3 linked regions of the Homo sapiens genome follow. The protein of the gene in region 3 interacts with the protein of the main gene of each other region in a pairwise test. Each region holds a gene or a part of one and is shown on either strand. Other genes may lie near its edges.

What was found.
Region 1: the proteins of HNRNPC (region 3) and CDC5L interact in binary tests that used the Homo sapiens proteins (3 or more experiments, as listed by UniProt).
Region 2: the proteins of HNRNPC (region 3) and RBPMS2 interact in binary tests that used the Homo sapiens proteins (3 or more experiments, as listed by UniProt).

What each region holds. Positions count from the first base shown.
Region 1 is NC_000006.12:44,390,689-44,397,715, forward strand, and holds part of CDC5L (cell division cycle 5-like protein), read left to right. Parts: intron 1-1,978; coding exon 1,979-2,140; intron 2,141-2,757; coding exon 2,758-2,885; intron 2,886-5,652; coding exon 5,653-5,752; intron 5,753-7,027.
Region 2 is NC_000015.10:64,751,580-64,758,606, forward strand, and holds part of RBPMS2 (RNA-binding protein with multiple splicing 2), read right to left. Parts: intron 60-7,027; coding exon 1-59.
Region 3 is NC_000014.9:21,210,432-21,217,458, forward strand, and holds part of HNRNPC (heterogeneous nuclear ribonucleoproteins C1/C2), read right to left. Parts: intron 2,687-7,027; coding exon 2,529-2,686; intron 1,493-2,528; coding exon 1,379-1,492; intron 1,136-1,378; coding exon 975-1,135; intron 876-974; coding exon 792-875; 3' UTR 1-791. UniProt on the Homo sapiens protein: Binds pre-mRNA and nucleates the assembly of 40S hnRNP particles. Interacts with poly-U tracts in the 3'-UTR or 5'-UTR of mRNA and modulates the stability and the level of translation of bound mRNA molecules. Single HNRNPC tetramers bind 230-240 nucleotides.

The sequences.
Region 1 (7,027 bases), on a different chromosome or scaffold from region 3:
TCTACTTTCAGGGACAGATGAGCCCCAGCTTGTAAATTAATTGTGTTCTAAAAGTGCATAAGTTAGCTGTTTTAGAAATTACTTGCTCAAAGAAATAAATGATAAATAATGGCTAATTTTCTAAGTAAGCCTACAGTAGTTGAGTTTCCTCATAATACAGTTGAAATATTATATATTTTATAGTTAATATGTTATATATTATATATTAAACATACTTAATGTTATATATTATATATTAAACATATTTAATATGTTATATATTATATATTAAACATATTTAATATGTTATATATTATATATTAAACATATTTAATATGTTATATATTATATATTAAACATATTTAATATGTTATATATTATATATTAAACATATTTAATATGTTATATATTATATATTAAACATTTAATATGTTATATATTATATATTAAACATATTTAATATGTTATATATTATATATTAAACATATTTAATATGTTATATATTGTATATATTAAACATATTTAATATGTTATATATATTAAAAGATATAAGCCAACTCTGAACCTGTGGTGTCACCTCTTTTTTATTTTTATTTTTTGGGACGGAGTCTTGCTCTGTCGCCCAGGCTGGAGTGCAGTGGCGTGATCTCAGCTCACTGCAAGCTTTGCCTCCCGGGTTCACGCCATTCTTCTGCCATAGCCTCCTGAGTAGCTGGGACTACAGGCTCCTGCCACCATTCCCGGCTAATTTTTTGTATTTTTAGTAGAGACGGAGTTTCGCCGTGTTAGCCAGGATGGTCTTGATCTCCTGACCTCGTGATCCATCCACCTCGGCCTCCCAGAGTGCTGGGATTACAGGCGTGAGCCACCGCGCCCGGCTGGTGTCACCTCTTAAATCATAGGGTAGTGGACACGTGAAGCTATTTAGGGTGTTCTTGGCATGAGTTATTTAGCACCATCCCCAAGTCATGTGGCATTAGGAAAATACTTTGGATTGTATAAGAATGACCTAATTTCCTAGGCACCTGGTTAGGGGAAAGTATCAGAATGTAGAAATTGGCCAGGCGTGGTGGCTCACATCTGTAAGCCTAGCACTTCGGGAGGCCAAGGCTGGGATCACCTGAGGTCAGGAGTTTGAGACCAGCCTGGCCAACATGGTGAAAACCCCGTCTCTTCTAAAAGTACAAAAATTAGCCAGGCGTGGTGGCTACTTGGGAGGCTGAGGTGGGAGGATCGGTTGAACCCAGGAGGTGGAGGTTGTAGTGAGCTGAGATGCTGCCACTGCACTCCAGCCTGGGCGACAGAGTGAGGCTTTTTGAATGTAGAAATTGGCTGTTAAGAGGAAGATGATTTTTAGGCTGAAGAAGTCGTTCTGATTTCTGTTTGTCTTAGTGGTACCAGTTCCTGCTGTCATATTTGGTAGGACTTAAGTCCTGTTTGCCTGCCTGTCATCCAGCTAAGTAGACTGGATGGAAAAGGTGGGCTGGGTGGGGAATTAGGAAAGACAGAGGGAATGTCATAGTAGTTTTACTTAAATTTTAAAACATATCAAATGAAAGGTTACGGTGAATTTAGTGAGTGTAAGTCAAATGCTTAAAGAAATAAGCCATGGTGTGAGAATCAAAGCATGAGAAAATAGTATGAAAACTGGAAACACTGTAAGAAACGTGATTTTGTATTGTCTTCCAAATATTTCAAAATTTCTAGAAAAGCGTAAATAAATAAAAACATGATAGATGAGAAAGAAGGCTTATGATCATGATTCAGTGAAGTAACCTTTTTTAACCATTACTAATCTTGCATAATTAAAATAAAATAGAATGTGATGAGATGGGGAATATTGACTGGGGTAAGTGTAACCACACAGCAAATATTCTGTTGTCAAAAAGAACAGTTTTTGTAATTGAAGGATGAGAGCACAAGTCAGTGTATCCATTGTGCAAATTGGATATTTATGCCAGGTAACTGATTAATATATAAAATGATCTATGTTTAATAGGTATGAATGGCTGGATCCAAGCATTAAGAAGACAGAATGGTCCAGAGAAGAAGAGGAAAAACTCTTGCACTTGGCCAAGTTGATGCCAACTCAGTGGAGGACCATTGCTCCAATCATTGGAAGAACAGCGGCCCAGTGCTTAGAACACTATGAATTTCTTCTGTAAGTGAGTCTTCAGAAAGAGCATAGAATATATGTATATGTTCTGAAAGAGGCTGAATAAACTTTGAGTATTTTCTGTCTTTAAACTTTTAATTATGGATGTGAGTAAACCCAAAGCTAAAGCCATTGGATAATATTTTCCATATCTCAGATGGTTGATCAAAATTATGCCTTCTGTCATATACTTCCTAAAATAATAATTTAAAAGAATTATACAAGTCATGCATGTTCATCATAGAAAATCTGGGGAAAAAATAGTAAAAGAGCAAATAAAAGTCACCCATAATCACACTGCTAAGAATTAACTACTGGAACATTTTGGTTCTTTACTAATAGTTTTTTTTTTTTTTTTTTTTTTTTTAAATTTGTATGGCTGTACCGCATTTGTGATTAGGATCTGTTTGGGTTCTATTTTAGAGTGATTGAAACCAGTCACTGAAATCAGCAAATTTTAATATCATTTCTTTCAGATGAAGTGATAGTAAAAAGGCTTTATGTTGTTAAAGCCCATCCATTGGTTTTTTTGGGGGGAAAAATATCGTCAGAACTTGGAAATCTGGTAATTTTAACTCTAAATGGTACTGTAGTGTGACTAACTCCTATGGGCTTTTTTCTAGGGATAAAGCTGCCCAAAGAGACAATGAAGAGGAAACAACAGATGATCCACGAAAACTTAAACCTGGAGAAATAGATCCAAATCCAGAAACAAAACCAGCGCGGCCTGATCCAATTGATATGGATGAGGGTAAGTGTATGCTTTGAGGAATTTATTTCTTTGGTAACTGTAAACTCCTTGGGCCTCACTCTTTTAGTTCCTTTCTGAACTCCTCTACTTTAGAATCCCTTTTTTTTTTGAGACAAGGTCTTGCTCTGTTACCCAGGCTGGAATGAAGTGGCACAATCATGGTTCACTGCGGTTTTGACCTCCTGGGCTTAAGCAATCCTCCCATCTCAGCCTCCTGAGTAGTTGGGACTACAGGTTTATGCCGCCATACCTGGCTAATTTTTAAATTTTTTTGTAGAGATGGGGTCTCCCTGTGTTACCCAGGCTGGTCTCAAACTCCTGGGCTTAAGCTATCCTCCCTTTTCTGCCTCCAAAAGTGTTGAGATTATAGGTGTGAGCCACCATACCTGATCCCCAATTCTGTCAGCAGTGTTCTTATTCTAAGTATCTTTCCAAATATGTCCAGTGTTTTCTGTTATAGAGTAGTTGCTTTTTCTGAACAGCGCCCCTTCATCTTCTGTTTCTTCAATTCAGTTAATTAAGTTAATTAAGTGTTACGGGGTGTGGTGGTATGTGCCTGTAGTGCTAGCTGCTAAGGAAGTTGAGGTGGGTCGATCTCTTTAGCCCAGGAGTTGGAGGCCAGTCTGGGCAACATAACCCCTTGAGCCCAGAAGTTGGAGGCCAGCCTGGGCAGCATAACGAGACCCTGTCTTTAAAACTGAGTAGTGTAATTCTACTGAGTAGATTTTTCAGAGGCTAGAGGTGAGCCCTTGAAGATCCTGTTTCTCATTCCTATTCCATGGAGAGAGACATCAAGTCAGAATATTGGACCTCAGTCCTCCTATTAATTACTTATTTGACTATAGGCAAGTTATTTATTCTGTGTGAGAAGGCAACCTGTGAGACGGTGATGGAGACTTAACAGTGATTCTGGGAGGCATTGAATCAGGAATTCCACAATAGAAAGTATATGGAATCAACCTAAGTGTCCATTAATGGGTGAATGGATAAAGAAAATGTGGACTGGGCATGGTGGCTCACGCCTGTAATCCCAGCACGTTGGGAGGCTGAGGTGGGCAGATCACTTGAGCCCAGGAGTTCAAGATCAGCCTGGCCAACATGGTGAAACCCTGCCTCTATAAAAAAATACAAAAATTAGCCAGGTGTGGTGGCGCATGCCTGTAGATCCAGCTACTGGGGAGGCTGAGGTGGGAGAATCACTTGAGCCCGGGAGGCTGGGTTTGCCATGAGCTGAGATCAAGCACTGCACTCCAGCCTGGGCAACAGAGCAGGACCCTGTCTCAAAAAAAAAAAAAAAAAAAAAAAAAAAAAATGGTATACACACACACACACACACACACACACACGAATACTATTTGGTCATAAAAAGCAATGAAATCATGTCATTTGCAGCAACATGGATGGCAGTAGAAGTCATTATGTTCAGTGAAATAAGCCAGGCACAGAGAGACAAATACTGCATATTCTTCCTCATATGTGGGAGCTAAAAGCGTTGATCTCATGGAGTTAGAATAGAGTGATAGATGCCAGAGGCTGGGTATGGTGTGTGGGTGGGAGAGCGGGATTAAGAGAGGTTGGTTAATGGGTACAAACGTAGATGGAAAGAAATAAGTTATAATGTTTGATAGCAGAATAGGGTGACTATAGTTAGCAACAGTGTATTACATATTTCAAAGTAGCTGGAAGAGAGGTCTGAAATAAATACTCAAGGTGATGGGTACCCCAGATATACTGACTTGATCATTACACATTCTATGCATGTAACAAACTCTCACATGTACCCTATAAATATGTAAAGTATGATGTATCAGTTAACAGAATCAGGAATTGGATTTTCAACCCGTGTGTGCCACCTATTAGCTGTTTGACCTTAGACAAGTCATAAAATCTCTCTGAGCTTTGATTCCCTTTCTTGCGAGATGGGGAATACTAATACCTGCTTTACCTTAGCAGGGTTGTTGTGAAGCACTCAGTGAATATTTGTTAAGTTTCTAAAATGTAAAGTTTGAACATAGTGGTTCCCAAAGGCAGGCTGTGGCTAGGCTGGCTGCATCATTATCACAGGGGGAGCATTTAAAAATAGAAATATCAGGGCTTCTCCTGTATATACTGAGTCAGTACATCTGGGGTGGTGTGGGAGGCACGGGAAGAGCAGTGATCTTGGAATCTGAGTATTTTACAAGTTCCCATGTGATTTAGTTGGACAGCCTTGCATAGGAATTGTTCTAAGGCATCAATAGTGGCATGTATTATTCCATTCTATAGAGCCACGAAAAATGTATTGGATGAGAGAAATTGTTCTGAGGGGAAAAAAAAGTATCTAATGATAGTTGTTCTCTCATAATTAAATAGTTTTTACCCTATTTCACAATTTGTGCTGTGCCAGTTAGTTGATAATAATGAAGGATACAATAATTGTAGCCACTGTTTAATGAATGCTTGCGAGATGCTTTACATATTTCGTTTTACTTAGCCCTTCTCAAAATCCTTGTGAAATAGGAATTGTTATTCGAATTTTATAGGGAAACCATGCTTAGGGAGGGTAAGTAAGTGACTAAGGTCACATAGCTAGCAAGTGGTGGGCCTGGTTTTTAACCTAGGTTCTTTGACTTCAAAACTCAAGCTGTTTCCATTATGCTACACCATAAAATCAGTATTTTTATGTTTTTTTCTCATTTTGAGCAATAGAGTGTCTCTTACATACCTTGCTTCTAGAGTATGTAAGAACTAAGAAAATACTTAGTTTTTCTTCTTTTAATTTTTGCAGATGAACTTGAGATGCTTTCTGAAGCCAGAGCCCGCTTGGCTAATACTCAGGGAAAGAAGGCCAAGAGGAAAGCAAGAGAGAAACAATTGGAAGAAGCAAGGTATGTGTGGATATAGGAATAAAAAGCAAAGTGTTTTTCTCACATAACAATCAACACAGAATACTTCTGTGACCAGATATGTGGTTTTTTTTTTTTTTTCCCCTCTCCACCAGCAATCAGGCAATCAATTCTGCAGTGGATAGCTGGGTGTCCTCTAATTCAGTTAACTCTAATACTGTCTACCTGGAGATAGCTCCAGATCTTACAGGTTGAGGACTTAGTCCCACAAGACTGAACCCCAGTTTTGATGCTGACCCTAAACCCCAGGTTATTTTGCTTGTGTTTCTGACCAGCGAGCTGGGTTCCACTGCCCCTTCCTTGGGTTCCATTCATCTGCTAGAGGACTCACAGAACTCAGGGAAACACCCACATTTACAAAGGATATTTTAAAGGATACAAATCAACGGCCCCATGAAGAGATACACAGGGTGAAGCCTGGAAGGGTCCTGAGTGCAGGTGCTTATGTCCCATTGAAGTTGGGATATGCCACCCTCCCAGCCAGTGGGTGTGTTCTTGTTCACCTTTTCGGAAGCCCCCATGTATTTGGCTGCCCACAAGTTCTCCAGACTCTGTCCTTTTGGGTTTTTATGGAGGCTTCATTAAATAGGCAAGATTGATTACATCATTGGCCATTGCTTATCAACTCGACCTTCAGCCCTTCTCCCCTCCCCTGAGGTTGGGGGTTGTGGCTGAAAGTCCCAAGCCCTCTAATCCTGCCGTGGTCTTTCTGGTGACTGCCAGCTATCAGTCAACTCATTAACATGCAGAAAGACACTTTTCACTTGGAAGAGTCCCAGGATTTTAGGAGTTGCATTGTTGGAAACGGATGAAGACCAAATACATTATTTCACAATGTGTGCTTGTCTCCATTCATAGTTCAATAATTAGTCTAGGCATCCTTAGGACCAATAAAACTGCATGATTTATTAACCCGTTGGGTGAATAATAATTGGAATTGTCCAGTTCCTATTTCGCTAGTATTCTTTACCTTCTTTATTTCTCTGAAACTATCTTGTATTTTTTTCCCCCAACCATTTCAGAATATTTATAGAAAACCATATTTAAAAAAAATTGAAGCTATGGCAGAGGTAATGCCCAGTTTATCCAGTATGTTGAGTGTGTTCTGTTGGCATATGAGAGCTTCATTTGTTGTAGCTATTTTGGAGTCAGATGACTGTAGGACACACAAGATTATGTGTCTTTTGTATGACTGCCAATTAGTTACTTTCCTTGATTGGTATTGGGAAGGCACTGGCTGTGAAACAGGAAACTTGG
Region 2 (7,027 bases), on a different chromosome or scaffold from region 3:
AAGTAGAGTTCTCTGGGTTTAATGTCCACAGGGAGGCCGCTGACAAACAGTGTCCGGACCTGGAGACAGAGACCAGTGATCAGGGCCAGGCTGCCCAAGACGGACAGGGATGACAACAGCGCTTCCTTCAGGCAGGCAACTGGAATCCTTCTAGAGCTTAGAGGAATTCAGCCTTTCCTGGGCCTCCTTGGATACCCAAGGCAAATTAACATTGTTTCACAGCACTCAATTTCTCAAAGCCCTTTCCTTTCTCTGGGTACATCCCAGAGGCATCGTGCTGCGTCTGCCGGATGCCTCTGCACACAGACTGAGTCTGCTGGTGAACAGAGGCAAAAAGAAAGCCCTGTTTGATAAGGGTACAAACCCAGCCCAGCATGCCTTTTTTTTTTTCTTTTTTTTTTTTGAGACAGAGTCTTACTCTGTTGCCCAGGCTAAACTGCAGTGGCGTGATCTCAGCTCACTGCAACCTCCACCTCCTGGGTTCAAGAGATTCTCCTGCCTCAGCCTCCTGAGTAGCTGGGATTACTGGGGTACACCACCACGCCATGCTAATCGGTATGCCTTTTCAAACCAAAGCCTCCTCTAAAAATCTGAAGAAAGCTGCAGTGCCTGACCCCCCAAAAATGTACATGTAAAAATGTATCTATTTTTTTAATCCATTGCACCACTGGCCCCTCAGACAAAAAAGTATCTGTTTTCTAGATGATACCCATGGCCTCCTGGTAGAGAGCCTCCAGTCTGGTCGAGGGGAGGAGCAAAGATGTAAAGGAAACAGAGTCCCATGCCCACTATCCCCTGCAGTGATTTCAACAGAGGGCCCGGCACTTTCTCATCCATCTCCTGCTCCTACACGAGATGTGGGACCTTCAATGTCAAGAAACACCTTATACTCCTGCCTCTCTGCCTGCTCTTAGCATGGTGATGGTACTAAATGTTGACTGAACAGGGTAATGGGTAAACAGTCAAAACCATTATGCTGAGTTTTGAAGAACACGCTAAGATCTTGCCAGCTTCAGGTGAAGCATTTGATGCTGTGAGTTTTTTTTTTTTTGAGATGGAGTTTTGCTGTCACCCGGACTGGAGTGCAGTGGCGCCATCTCGGCTCACTGCAACCTCTGCCTCCCCGGTTCAAGCGATTCTCCTGCCTCAGCCTCCCATGTAGCTGGGATTACATGCATGCACCACCATGCCCAGCTAATTCTTTGCATTTTTAGTAGAGATGGGGTTTCACCACATTGGTCACGCTGGTCTCGAACTCCTGACCGCAAGTGATCCGCCCACCTCGGCCTCCCAAAGTGCTGAGATGACAGGATTGAGCCACCGTGCCCGGCTGATGCTGTGAATTTTGAGCATTGCCCCCAACATGGTTACAAGCCAGATCTAAACACTAGGTGTCCATCCTGTGACTGTAGCCACTGCTGCTATTTAAACGCTGCTGGCACCGGATGCTAAACTAGCAAGCCCTGATCAGCCAAAAATTGTGATGGGGAAGGGGAGACTTTCCATAGCTTAGATCCATTCAAAACATTTTTTGAAACCGTGGCTTCCTGAATAATGAAAAATGTGAACAAGCAGAGCGTCCCTACACGCTTGACTCCTGCTCTGGGCCACATCTCCTCCTGCGAAGCCAAGCACAGGTCTTCTGAACTCACCGCTGCAGATTTTAGAAGTTCACATGCCTCACCCCATCACGCGGCCATTCTTGAAAGCATTAAGTTGCCCTACAGTGGGCCACATCCCCTTCTTGAGAGGTACCAAAGAACTTGCTCCGCTCTCTAGTGATGGCCCGCTGACCCCAGACAACAGCCTTTCTGAGACGATGGCTTTTATCAGTGGCTTGTCTCAGGAAGCTGGAGCAATGTTAGGTAAAACTACACCCAATGCACCCAGAGAACTCAACAGAGCCAAGAATGTCAAAGGAAATCAGCCAGGATAGCTGCTGGTTACTGGTGTCACCACTCCCACCCACGCAAGAATGACTCTCAGCCACGGTGAAGACAAACTTTGTCTCTTAAACTTTGACTCTCAGCCATGGTGAAGACAAACCTCACGTGAGCTTTTGCCAAGCCCATTCAGCAGAATCTCGGGCCGCTTGGGACGCATCTTCTCCCTTGGGACACGTCTTCCCCTCAGTAGAGGCACCACTATACCAGCCTCTGTGCCCGGGGTTGGGGTGATGGCACCTCACACCTCACAGCCCTGGCAGCTCATGTCCCACGGAGACACCACTCGAATCCTGCTTTGTTGTTGGCAGCATCTGGGGGTCTGGATAGCCAAGGATCCAGGATGGGTGAAACCGAGCTCCTGACCTGAGCCCAGCAGGCCTCTCTGCCCTTTGATGTAAGGGCCTTGAGGTGTGCGTGTGAATCCCCAAGCAGAAGTGACTTGTCCAAGGTCACATGGCTTGTTCTTTAAAGGCAGCAGACCTGGAACTCAAAACCCAGGCCTCGGCCAGGTGCAGTGGCTCATGCCTGTAACCCCAGCACTTTGGAAGGCTGAGGCGGGTGGATCACTTGAGGTCAAGAGTTTGAGACCAGCCTGGCCGACGTGGTAAAACCCCATCTCTACTAAAAATACAAAAAATTAGCCAGGTGTGGTGGCCCATCCCTGCAGTCCCAGCTACTTCGGAGGCTGAGGCAAGAGAATCACTAGAACCCAGGAGGCAGAGGTTGTGGTGAGCCAAGATCGCACCACTGCACTCCAGCATGGGCGACAGAGTGAGACTCCATCTCAGAAAAAAAGAAAAAAAAGGCTGGGCGTGGTGGCTTACACCTGTAATCCCAGCACTTTGAGAGGCCGAGGTGGGTGGATCACTTGAGGTTGGGAGTTCAAGACCAGCCTGACCAACATGGAGAAACCCCGTCTCTACTAAAAAATACAAAATTAGCTGGGTGTGGTGGCGCATGCCTATAATCCCAGCTACAAGGGATGCTGAGGTAGGAGAATCACTTGAATCGGGAGGCAGAGGTTGCAGTGAGCTGAGATCACACCACTGCACTCCAGCCTGGGCAACAAGAGCAAAACTCCGTCTCAAAAAAAAAACCCAAAACCCAAGTCTTCCTACTACATGCCCAGCCTGGCCCACTGCACTCCAGCCTGAGCAACAAGAGCAAAACTCCGTCTCAAAAAAAAAAAACCCAAAACCCAAGTCTTCCTACTACGTGCCCAGCCTGGCAGAGGTGATGGGTGCTTTGGGTGCTGGGAAAGGACGACAGGACCCGAGCACCAAGCCCTCTGGGTAGCCCAGGGTCTGCCTCCAACACCTCACCCCAGAGGATGGGCCAAGAGTGCAGCCACCAGCGTCCTGATGGAGGGACCTAGATCGGTACCACTCCCTTCTCTCCTCCCCTTCCTCCCCAGGAAAGCAGGACATGATTTGGGTCAAAGACCCAGACCAGAGCAGACCCACGGAAACCTCTGCTTCAGTTCTCCCCAGGGGCCACACATTTCACCCAGGCTAATTTTAAACCCTCCCTCAAATGGCTCCTTTCTGGCCAGACCTCCCCAGAGGCCTCTTAAATAGCAAGTTCTCAGCACAGAGTTTCCGCTTGGGGTAGGGTGGGGTGAGTGTAGGGGCTGTTTCCTTATCCTGGCTCAAGACTCGTTTCCAGCCAGGATTCCCTCTGGGTCCGATGACCCTTTTCCTCAGGGTTCCATCTTTCAGGTTCTATAGAGTCCAAAAGGCTACCCCACAGCTCCCATCCTGTCCCTGGCCACCTCTCAGGTGGTCAAGGCAGTCACGGATGAGCTGGTGGGCCCGTCTGCCTGAGCACAGATGCTCTGTGGGGAGCAGTCCGGGAGGCTAAATCACAGCAAGTGTGATTCCCAAACACCCGCCTTGGTTCCTACTAGATTCCAGCCACCCCAGCAGATGACATCTTAAAGCCCAGCCCCTTGTACAGACAGGGAGACTGAGACCCAGAAAGCCTTGGTGATTTGTCAACGGCACACAGCTGAGTTCACGGAGGAGCAGGGCTCCTGAGACCAGGCACCCTGACTCTGCTGTTTGTGAGGGCAGGGGGAGCGGCACAGGGCAGCCTCATCAGCGTCATGGGTGGGTAAGTGCTGCCATCCATCCACTCAGTATGACACTTGTTTAGGATGACAGCCACACCAGAGTGAGGAGGGCAGAAAAAGGGGAAACTGGCAAACCAGGAGCAGGGGAAGCGTGGGCTCCGCAGGCTGACCAGCCACATGTAGGGAGGAACAAGAGGTTCCAAAGCCGCCCAACACCTGCTTCCATCAAGCCCGCCCAGCCCACCCACTCCAGGGCCCTGACAAGCGTCCACAAGGCTGCCTGCACTGCCCCCTCGGCTCACCCCTTCCTCACTCCTTAACTAAAGGTATCCAGCCTTCAGGTCTTTCCGGAGTCCTCAACTACCCTTTCCTTCCTCTGAAGCCCCACAGTGGCCGTTAGGACCCCTCGCCTTATAGTTCCCAGCAGTCTGAGGTACCCCTCACCTTGACTACAGAAAGCCCTAGAGACAGGAACCAAGCCTCAAAACATTTCCATCTCCCAATGTCCCTAGAGTCAGGTCTAAGCACTGGAGACCTCCCCCATCTCTACACACCTCAGTCCCTGCAGAGAAGAAACTCACAGCCAGAGACCAGATACGATCCAGCATGGCAGAACGATACCATAAATGGCAGAGAGGGCCGGGCATGGTGGCTCACACCTGTAATCCCAGCACTTTGGGAGGCCAAGGAGGGTGGATCACTTGCGGTCAGGAGCTTGAGACCAGCCTGGCCAACATGATGAAACCCCGTCTCTACTAAAGATACAAAGTTAGCTGGGTGTGGTGGCGCACACCTGTAGTCCCAGCTACTTGGCAGGCTGAGGCACGAGAATCCCCTGAACCCTGGAGAGATGGAGGTTGCAGTGAGCCGAGATCATACCATTGCACTCCATCCTGGGCAGGAGAGCAAGACCCTGTCTCAAAAAAAAAAAAAAGGCAAAGAGAACAGGCCTTAGTTACACTGGAGTTTGCTTCCTAGCTTCATGCTTGGCCTGAGGAAGCCACTTCATCTTTCCGAATCTCAGTTTCTTATTTTTATTTATTTTTCATTTCTTTTTTTTTTTTTTATGGAGTCTCGCTCTGTTGCCCAGGCTGGAGTGCAGTGGCACAAACTCTGCTCACTGCAACCCTGTCCTCTGGGTTCAAATGATTCTCCTGCCTCAGCCTCCCAAGTAGCTGGAATTACAGGCGTCTGCCACCACGCCCAGCTCTTTTTTTTTTTTTTGGAGAGACAGGGTTTCACCACGTTGGCCAGGCTGGTCTCCTCACCTCAAGGAGTTCCTTGAGGTCAGGAATCCCTGACCTCAAGTGATCCGCCCGCCTTGGCCTCCCAAAGTACTGGCATTATAAGTGCGAGCCACCATGCCCGGCCTCATTTTTTTTTTTTTTTTTTTGGAAATGGAGTCTCGGTCTGTCTCCCAGGCTAGAGTGCAGTGGCGCTATCATAGCTCACTGCAGCATCAAACTCTTAGGCTCAAGAGATCTTCCTGCCTCAGCCTCCAGAGTATCTGGGACTATAGGTGTGCACCACAATGCCTGGCTAGCTTTTCCATTTTTGTAGCGATGAGGTCTCACTATGTTGCCTGGGCTGGTTTTGAACTCCTGGGCTCAGAGAATCCTTCTGCCCTGGCCTCCCCAAAGTGGTGGAATTACAGGTATGAGCCACCATGCCTGGCCTCAGTTTCATCTTCACAACACAAACACCATCTACCTCCAAGACTAAGAGCTCACCTTACTCTCCCCATTACTTGTGAGAGCAATAAAATGCTGGCTTCATTTAGGGCTCCTGCATTTACCTGCACAAGGATCTCCCTCATCAGGTGCCATGAGCCACTTATTAAGGTTGTCTACTGAAGCTGGTAATGTGGGTAGGATGTCCTAAGGTGGTCACTAGATTCTTTAGTTTTTCTCTTCCCCAGAGGAGGTAATGCCCGAAATAGAAGACACCACAGAGATCAGCTAGTTCAACCCCTTCGTTTTATAGATGGGGAAACTGAAGCCAAGAACAGGGTAACAAGGCAAGCTGATGGCACAGCCAGGATCTTTCAGCAATGGCAGGAACAGAGACATGCAGTTACTTCTCCAAGGTCCAGCCAACTAGTCTTGTGTCTCAGGCCAGTACAGGGGACCATTGTGGTACCTACGTCAGGGTAACAGGGGAAACATTCAGGAACAGGCTGGATGCTCCAACCTGGGCAATATAGCAAGGCCCTATCCCCCCCCACAAAAAATCAGCCAGGCGTGGTGGAAGGCACCTGAAGTCTGAGCAACTCGGGAGGCTGAGGTGGGAGCATCGCTTGAGCCCAGGAATTCAAGGCTGCAGTGAGTCATGATTGCACCACTTGAATTCCAGCCTGGGCAACAACAGAGCAAGACCCTACCTCTAAAAAACAAAAATAAAAAATAAAAGGTTAGATGCAGACAAGGATTCAGGCACCGACAACTAGTTGATGACAAGGAAAGTTCAACCAAATAACTCATGTCCTGCCTATTCCATGGGTTTATTACAAGAATTCAGCACATACACAAAACGTTTTAAAGCATTTAAAGAGTGCACAGGGGTGGTTCTCACAATCTCAGGCTGCTGGAAGGCACCAAACGCATTCACTTGGGCCCTTTTCCATACTCTCATCCCTTCTGCAGAAGCATCCAGCAACCCAAGGGTTCCTGTCCCAAAATGTGAAGAGCAACCACAGCCCTTCCAAAAAAGTCACCCTTATGGCAAGTAAGAGCAGAAATGCTGGGAGCACAGTCAGGTCCTCAGCACAGCTGGAAGGTACACCTGTAGTCACATGGAGCAGGTATGGGGGAGACCGGGGGAACGGATGGAGGATGATTCTGAGAACTCAGTCAAAGATACTTGTTGAGGAACAACCCTTCTGGTGGAACCTGCTGCAAGCACCAATATAGGCAAGGAACGTGGCCAGGGTTGTGTACCCATACAGAATACCACAGACATGGCTGTGTGGCTCTCATGACCCCACAGGAGCAGACCCAGCCCTGCTGGAGGT
Region 3 (7,027 bases):
ATGATTATGACTCCAAGAAAAATATATCTAGTGCATTCTAGAGGTTTTGTGGAGGACGCTGTAAAACAAAGTTTGAAGTAAACAATAATAAAATACAAAAATAAAAAACCAGGGTTTTTTTTTTCTCCAAATTCCTGGTTTAATAAGGACTTGTTTATTTTGAGGAAAAAAGGTCCCAAACATCAGGCTGTTCACAAAAATAACCCACAGTATCAACTTTAGAAAACAAATCTTAAGACTATAACACTAATTATTTTTCTAGAGGATGCATTTGACATGCCAACTCTCATTCACAAAAATACATTGTTACATTTGTGTTGAACTGCCCCACACAGCACACTAATGTGAGGGTGTAACACACATACTTCTAACTCAAAGCTGCTTTCAAGAGCTACTCAACTAAATGAGATTGCCTTTGCAGTTAGGGAAGCAACTACTGAACTTATGTATGAATGAAAAGAACTGTACTCCCTGCATAACAAGAGATTATTTTGGAGACAGTTGATAAAAACCATACATCCTTTTTATTGTTAAGTCATAAAGAGGTATCAAAATTAAAAGCAAAAATTACAGGGTAAGACTTAACAAAACTACTAGGAGCGTCAAAGGAAGTGAAAATGGGACTAGGCGCGGGGCAATATGAATTAATGAACATGGGAAGGACAAGGATGGGGAGAACAGTGAGCATGTGCTGAAGATACTAGGGGAGAGGATCTGGTGAAAAATTTGATCTTAGACAAGCGCCTAGGTAAAGAAATAATGGGATAAGATTTCTAAACCCCACTATGTGCTTAAGAGTCATCCTCGCCATTGGCGCTGTCTCTGTCATCCTCTCCTTCCTCAGCCTCTTTTTCATCATCCTTGATCAACTCCAGCTGTGAGAAACAGACACAAACAGGATGGAGTTAGAGGCACTCCATGTGTCCCTGAGCCCCCCTCCACCACCTTTTTCTTTCCTTTCCCGTGGTTTTCACCTGGTCATCCCCCCGATCTTCATTATCATCATCATCCAGTAGGTCCCCCTCCTCAGCAGAGTCATCTGCACCCCCCTCAGACTCCATCTTCACATTAGTCTCATCTTTCTTCACGGAGCTGCTGCTCTGCTCCTCTTCTGACTTATCATTCTTCATCTCTACTGCGGATGAGAAGGACAAGTCTGTCTAGGGGCAGTAATGTCCACAGGACGTAGACAATCCCCACTAAGGATCACAGAACTGCAGCACAAATCTAAATCCTCCCACACAAATACCCTTCCCAATTCACACTCCCCAAGTTTCATATTACATTGCTTTATATTCCACTATTCCAACATGTACTTTCAAGTGCCTTATGTAACTAACCCAACTGTATACCAAGGGCAAGCAGAAAACCCATTTACCTGCTTGTTTGCTCTGTTCCTTTTCAATTTTTTCCAGGTTTTCCAGGAGAGAATCCACTTTTTGTTTTATCTGGGTCAGCTCCTTCTTAATGGCCTGAAGGTCATCTCCTTTCACTTTAATATAAACAAAATACTAGATTAAAATCAAATGTACCGAAGATATGAGTTAGCAAATACACTGCCACCAGACTACATCAGGAGCTCACAGGAGATACCCAGGGAGAAACAGAGCCAGTACAGATTTCTCGGTAATAAAGGCCCTTGGTTCTATTATAAAGCACGTTCTGTAATGGTTTTTATTGTTTTTAATGTCTTTTAGATCAGGGCTGTCGCTATGTTGACCAGGCCTGAGGACAGTGACTATTCACACGTATGATCACAGTGAACTTAAACTCCTGGCCTCATGAAATCCTCCCACTACAGCCTAGATCCCCAGGGTCTTAGCCTCCCCCTAAGCATCTGGGGCTACAGGCACGCACCACTGCATCAGACCTTCTGTAATGTTTTACTGCCTTCCATATTTCCAGTTACAGGAGGAGTTCAATATAGAAAAGTTAAAAAAAATCAACATACTGAACACTGTCTGAATTTTAGTTTTTAAATAACACAAAAAAATCTCAGGAACTTAACGCACACCTCAACTACATAAAGTCAAATGACATTTTTTAAATTACCTAGCTGTTGCAGTCTAGAATTGGCCACTCAATCACAATCTTGTCTCCTCTGTTATTTTGGATTTTTTTTTTTTTCTTGAGATGGAGTTTTGCTCGTCACCCAGGCTGGAGTGCAATGGCATGATCTCGGCTCACTGCAACCTCCGCCTCCTGGGTAAAAGCGATTCTCCTGCCTCAGCCTCCCAATTAGCTGGGATTACATGCACGCACCACCATCCCCGGCAAATTTTTTGTATTTTCGGTAGAGATGGGGTTCCTCCATGTTGGACAGGCTGGTCTTGAACTCCTGACCTCAGCTGATCCACCCGCTGGGCCTCCCAAAGTGCTGGGATTACAGGCATGAGCCACCACACACCCAGCCTCTTCCATTATTTTGAATACACAAAGTCATGTGGCACAAAAATATTGTAACTGCATTAGCTTCCCTATCTCAAAACACAAGAGATACCAAAATCACAAAATGAAATAATACATACACTTTCCAGACTTGGAAGATCCCCGCTGTCCACTCTTAGAATTGAAGCCACTTTTGCCCCTTCGTGAAGTGTTTCCTGATACACGCTGACGTTTCGAGGGCACTACAGCCCGAGCAATAGGAGGAGGAGGAGGTACACGTGCTGGGTAACTGTACATCCTATTGGATAAGAGGAAAATGGAATTCATTCAAACCTAACATTAACTCAGCACAATTCAACAGACCTTATGATAAATAGTAAGTGAATATTGTCTCTAGTCGTTTCCTTTTATTAAATTTCATTAAGAAGGCCAGCAAAAACCTCCACAGTGGGGTTTAGAAATCTTATCCCATTATTTCTTTACCTAGGCACATAAAATAGTTGTAATACTGTAGCAACTTTTCCTCAGGAAAATAAAACATATATCAAATTATATGGTTGGCTGGCCTTTGGCACTGGATATAAATGATTCCTCTGTACTAGTGTCAGTATTAACAGGGCATTTATTATAATGAATAGCCTTTGGATCTTATTATTTTCAAATATACATTACAATAAACAATTCACATACGGTCAAATACTCTTTAAAATGTTCCAATTAAAAGGGTATATAAACAGTGGTATATGGCATTAGCGAAATCTCTGATTCTTTTCACCCACAGAAGCACACGAATTATTACAACTAGTGATATAAGGTTGAACCATATAAAATTTCAGATCTATAAAATCAGGGCAATTTCATGTAACTGAGGGAATCATAGCAAAATGTGTTGGCTGGGTATAAATACTACTGATAAAAAATACCTCATATAAAAACAGGTAGTATCATTTCTAACTAAATTTACGCTTAATTCCAACAGGGCAGAGACCACTGTCTATCTTGTTCACTACTCACCTATGTCTAAATTCACTGGCCAGTACACACTTAGCACTCAATAAACACTGGTTGCTCAACTAATTGCTGTTTCTATTAGAAATCTTAATTTCAAATGTCTTAAACTTAGTATCCCAGTGATTGATAAAGATACACCAAAGCAGTGGCTTGGTACACTTACATTTGTAAAGAGAAAATTCAAAACAGAACAAAATACTTCTTACATGGACATCAGTTCTAAACTTTCTACATTCCACATTGTCATTTCCATATAAGAACCTATGGCAACGTATGAAAAGGTCTTCAATTCTGCAAGCTTTTTAAAAATGCAACTAACTTAATGCAAAGGCCCAGGTACTCTATAAAAATACACCTACCAACTGTTCTAACTCCAAATATTTCTTAAAAAACAAATGTGATAGTCAAGAACTTTAAAAATATTATTAATCACCTTTGTCATGATTCTCCCTCTTATATATATACAATAGTGGCAAGTTATTCTGAGTTGTAATATCTCCAATCTTCCTGTAGTGAAAACATTTACAAGATCTCATTGCTAATTCTCTCCTCTGTTAACTTAAAAGTGTTTCCACACTATTTCAACAAAGCAATGTTTAATCTTGTCCCAGGAGTGGCTATGGACAGGAACATTTTCCTAAATTAAAAGAGCAAGGAAAGCTGAGATGGAAAGACAGGTTGAGCCCAGGAGGTGAGAGAACCATGACTGCACCACTGCACTCATGCGGAACAGAGCAACACTGTCTCAAAAAAAAAGAAAACAGAAAAAAGTTTGCATTTCCCCTAAGTATGGTTAATCTCTTAGTTTAATCCATTCATGGGAATTAATGCAAAGAAAAAGATACTGAGTAACTTTTTATTATCACTACTTTCCCATTTTGACATAAAGCTTTTGGTCTTTTTGACCAAAATCTTGCAAAGTATAATGATACAGAAACTATAAAATATCAGTGTTCAGAAACTCATATCCTTTGTGAGAGATGGTAACACTTGCACAAACACAAATTGCTTAACGACAATTTCTGGAGGTGAATCAAAATAAGTTATCCATATCCATGAGCATTAAACTGAGCTTAAGCCTCAGTCCAATGGAAATAAATATCTAATCTACCTCCTAAGCCACAAACCTTCACCGGCACCCGTATCTAAACCAATGAGCTAGCTAGCTAGTTCTGTACTATCACTGGAATTTCTTTTTAAAACCTACTATTTCGTCTGACCACAGCCAAAATAAAGCAAGTAATACAGTTTTGTTTTGAATCTATGTAACAGTCTCATGAACACAATTAGGAGTCAAATTCTCTACTTTTCTGAAGAAAAATATTTCAAAATATTTCAGCCAGTTAAGGCTTTTAGTTACACAGAATGCTGCTCAGGCAGAAATGGACTCTCATTCACATCTGAGGAAGTAGTCCTTGCCTCGAAAAATGTTGAGGACGGTAAGTGTGAAAATAGAAAAAAAACATACATAGTGTGACAACCTTTAAGTTAAAAGGGATATATATTAAGAAGCTCAGTATGACTACTTCAAGCACCAGCTAAAAATTAAGCGGAAATTCTCACTATGAGAAAGCTATACAATAGATGAGGCAACAATAGCTGATTACTTACTGATTAAGGCTAGGCTGTTTAAAATCTTTTACCAGGGGAACAAGGACTAAACCCTAGGAGAATTGTAACTGCACCCATAATCAAACTTGATGGTGTTGGTATAAAATCTAGTCAGATTAAGAAATTAAAACACTCTAGAGACATTAATCACCTGAACAGATTAAGACAAAATACACCAGCCAGGTGTGGAGGCTCATGCCTGTAATCCCAACATTTTGGGAGGCGGAGGCAGGTGGATCATGAGGTTACGAGTTGAGACCAGCCTGACCAACATGGGGAAACCCCGTGTATACTAAAAATACAAAAATTAGCCGGGCATGGTGGCACACGCCTGTAATTCCAGCTACTCAGGAGGGCTGAGGCAGAAGAATTGCTTGAATCTGGAAGGCAGAGGTTGCAGTGAGCTGAGATCATTCCACTGTACTCCAGCCTCAGTGACAGAGCAAGACTCCGTCTTAAAAAAAAAAAAAAGAAAGGAAGAAAGAAAGAAAAGGAAAAGAAAAAGAAAAAAAAAACAACAAAACACACCAGCTGGATGCAGTGGCACACCTGTAATCCCAGCTACGCAGGAGGCTGAGGCACGAGAGTTGCTTGAACCCAGGAAGGAAGTGGGGGTTGCAGACAGCCATTGCACTCCAGCCTGGGCGACAGAGTAAAAACTTTTGTCTCCTCCACCACCAAAAAAAAAAAAAAAAAAAAAGACAAAGAATGTCTACCCCAATTCCAAAGTAAAAGCATTACAAGACATGTACTAAGAAGAGGTTTTCAAAGGGAAGCTTCTTAAATGGAAATTCTGACCATAAGACATTAGCTGCAAACAGTGACATTTCCTGGGTCTCAAAAAACCTAGTAATACATGTCAACACTACACCAGAGTAGACGTTAATCTATTAATAATAAAGCTATCATTTGGTACATGGACCATTTAATGGACCACAGCTGATTCTCATCTTAAAAATGTGAACAGATTGAAATAATCTGTTTTGCCGGACAGGGTGGCTCACACCTGTAATCCCAGCACTTTGGGAGGCTAAGGCGAGCGGCTCATTTGAGGCCAGGACATGGAGACGGGCCTGACCAACATGGTGAAACCCAGTGTCTACTAAAAATAGAAAAAATTATCCAGGTGTGGTGGCACATTCCTATAATCTCAGGTACTCCGGGGGCTGAGGGACAACAATCGCTTGAACCTAACAGGCGGAGTTCATAATGAGTCAAGATCCCACCACTGCACTCCGGCATGGATCACAGAGTAAGACTCCGTCACAAAACAAAAATTAAGAGAACCAAAGGAGCAGTTTTTTCCATTCTATCTCCAGTAAATACTAGTTAAATGAACTACCAACTGATGACAGACATCTGCCTCAAACTTAACTATGTAGATAAAAAAACTGATATAAAAAAGTTTAACACAGGTTTACATTAAAATTTAAATAACAATATGTCAAATTGTGACCGAAAACAATAAATCCGTTAAACTAGCTAGCTAGCTAGTTCCGTACTATCACTGGAATTTCCTTTTAAAACCTACTATTTCATCTGACCATAGCCAAAATGAAGCAAGTAATAGTTCTGTTTTGAATCTATGTTAACAGTCCCATGAACACAATTAGGAGTCAAATTCTCTACTTTTCTGAAGAAAAATATTTCAAAATATTTCAGCCGGTGGGGCTTTTAGTTACAAAGAATGCTGCTCAGGCAGAAATGGACTCTCATTCACATCTGAGGAAGTAGTCCTTGCCTCAAAATGTTCGTAACATAGTTGGAATTCTTGATTTTGTGCTTAAAAATAAATCAACCAGCAAAATTTTTGTAGCTTGTGTTTTATTTCTAAACTGAAATCAATGATTTCTAATGTTATTTGCAAGTACTTCACCACAAACATGCTGTCTTAGTCTAGCATCAGTTTACCCGGATACTATCAACTGCAAGCACCACTCATTTAAAATATAAAACGACTAAATGGTAAACCAGTATGCTCATTTGCTCACCACTGGAGCTATACAAGGTATTCACC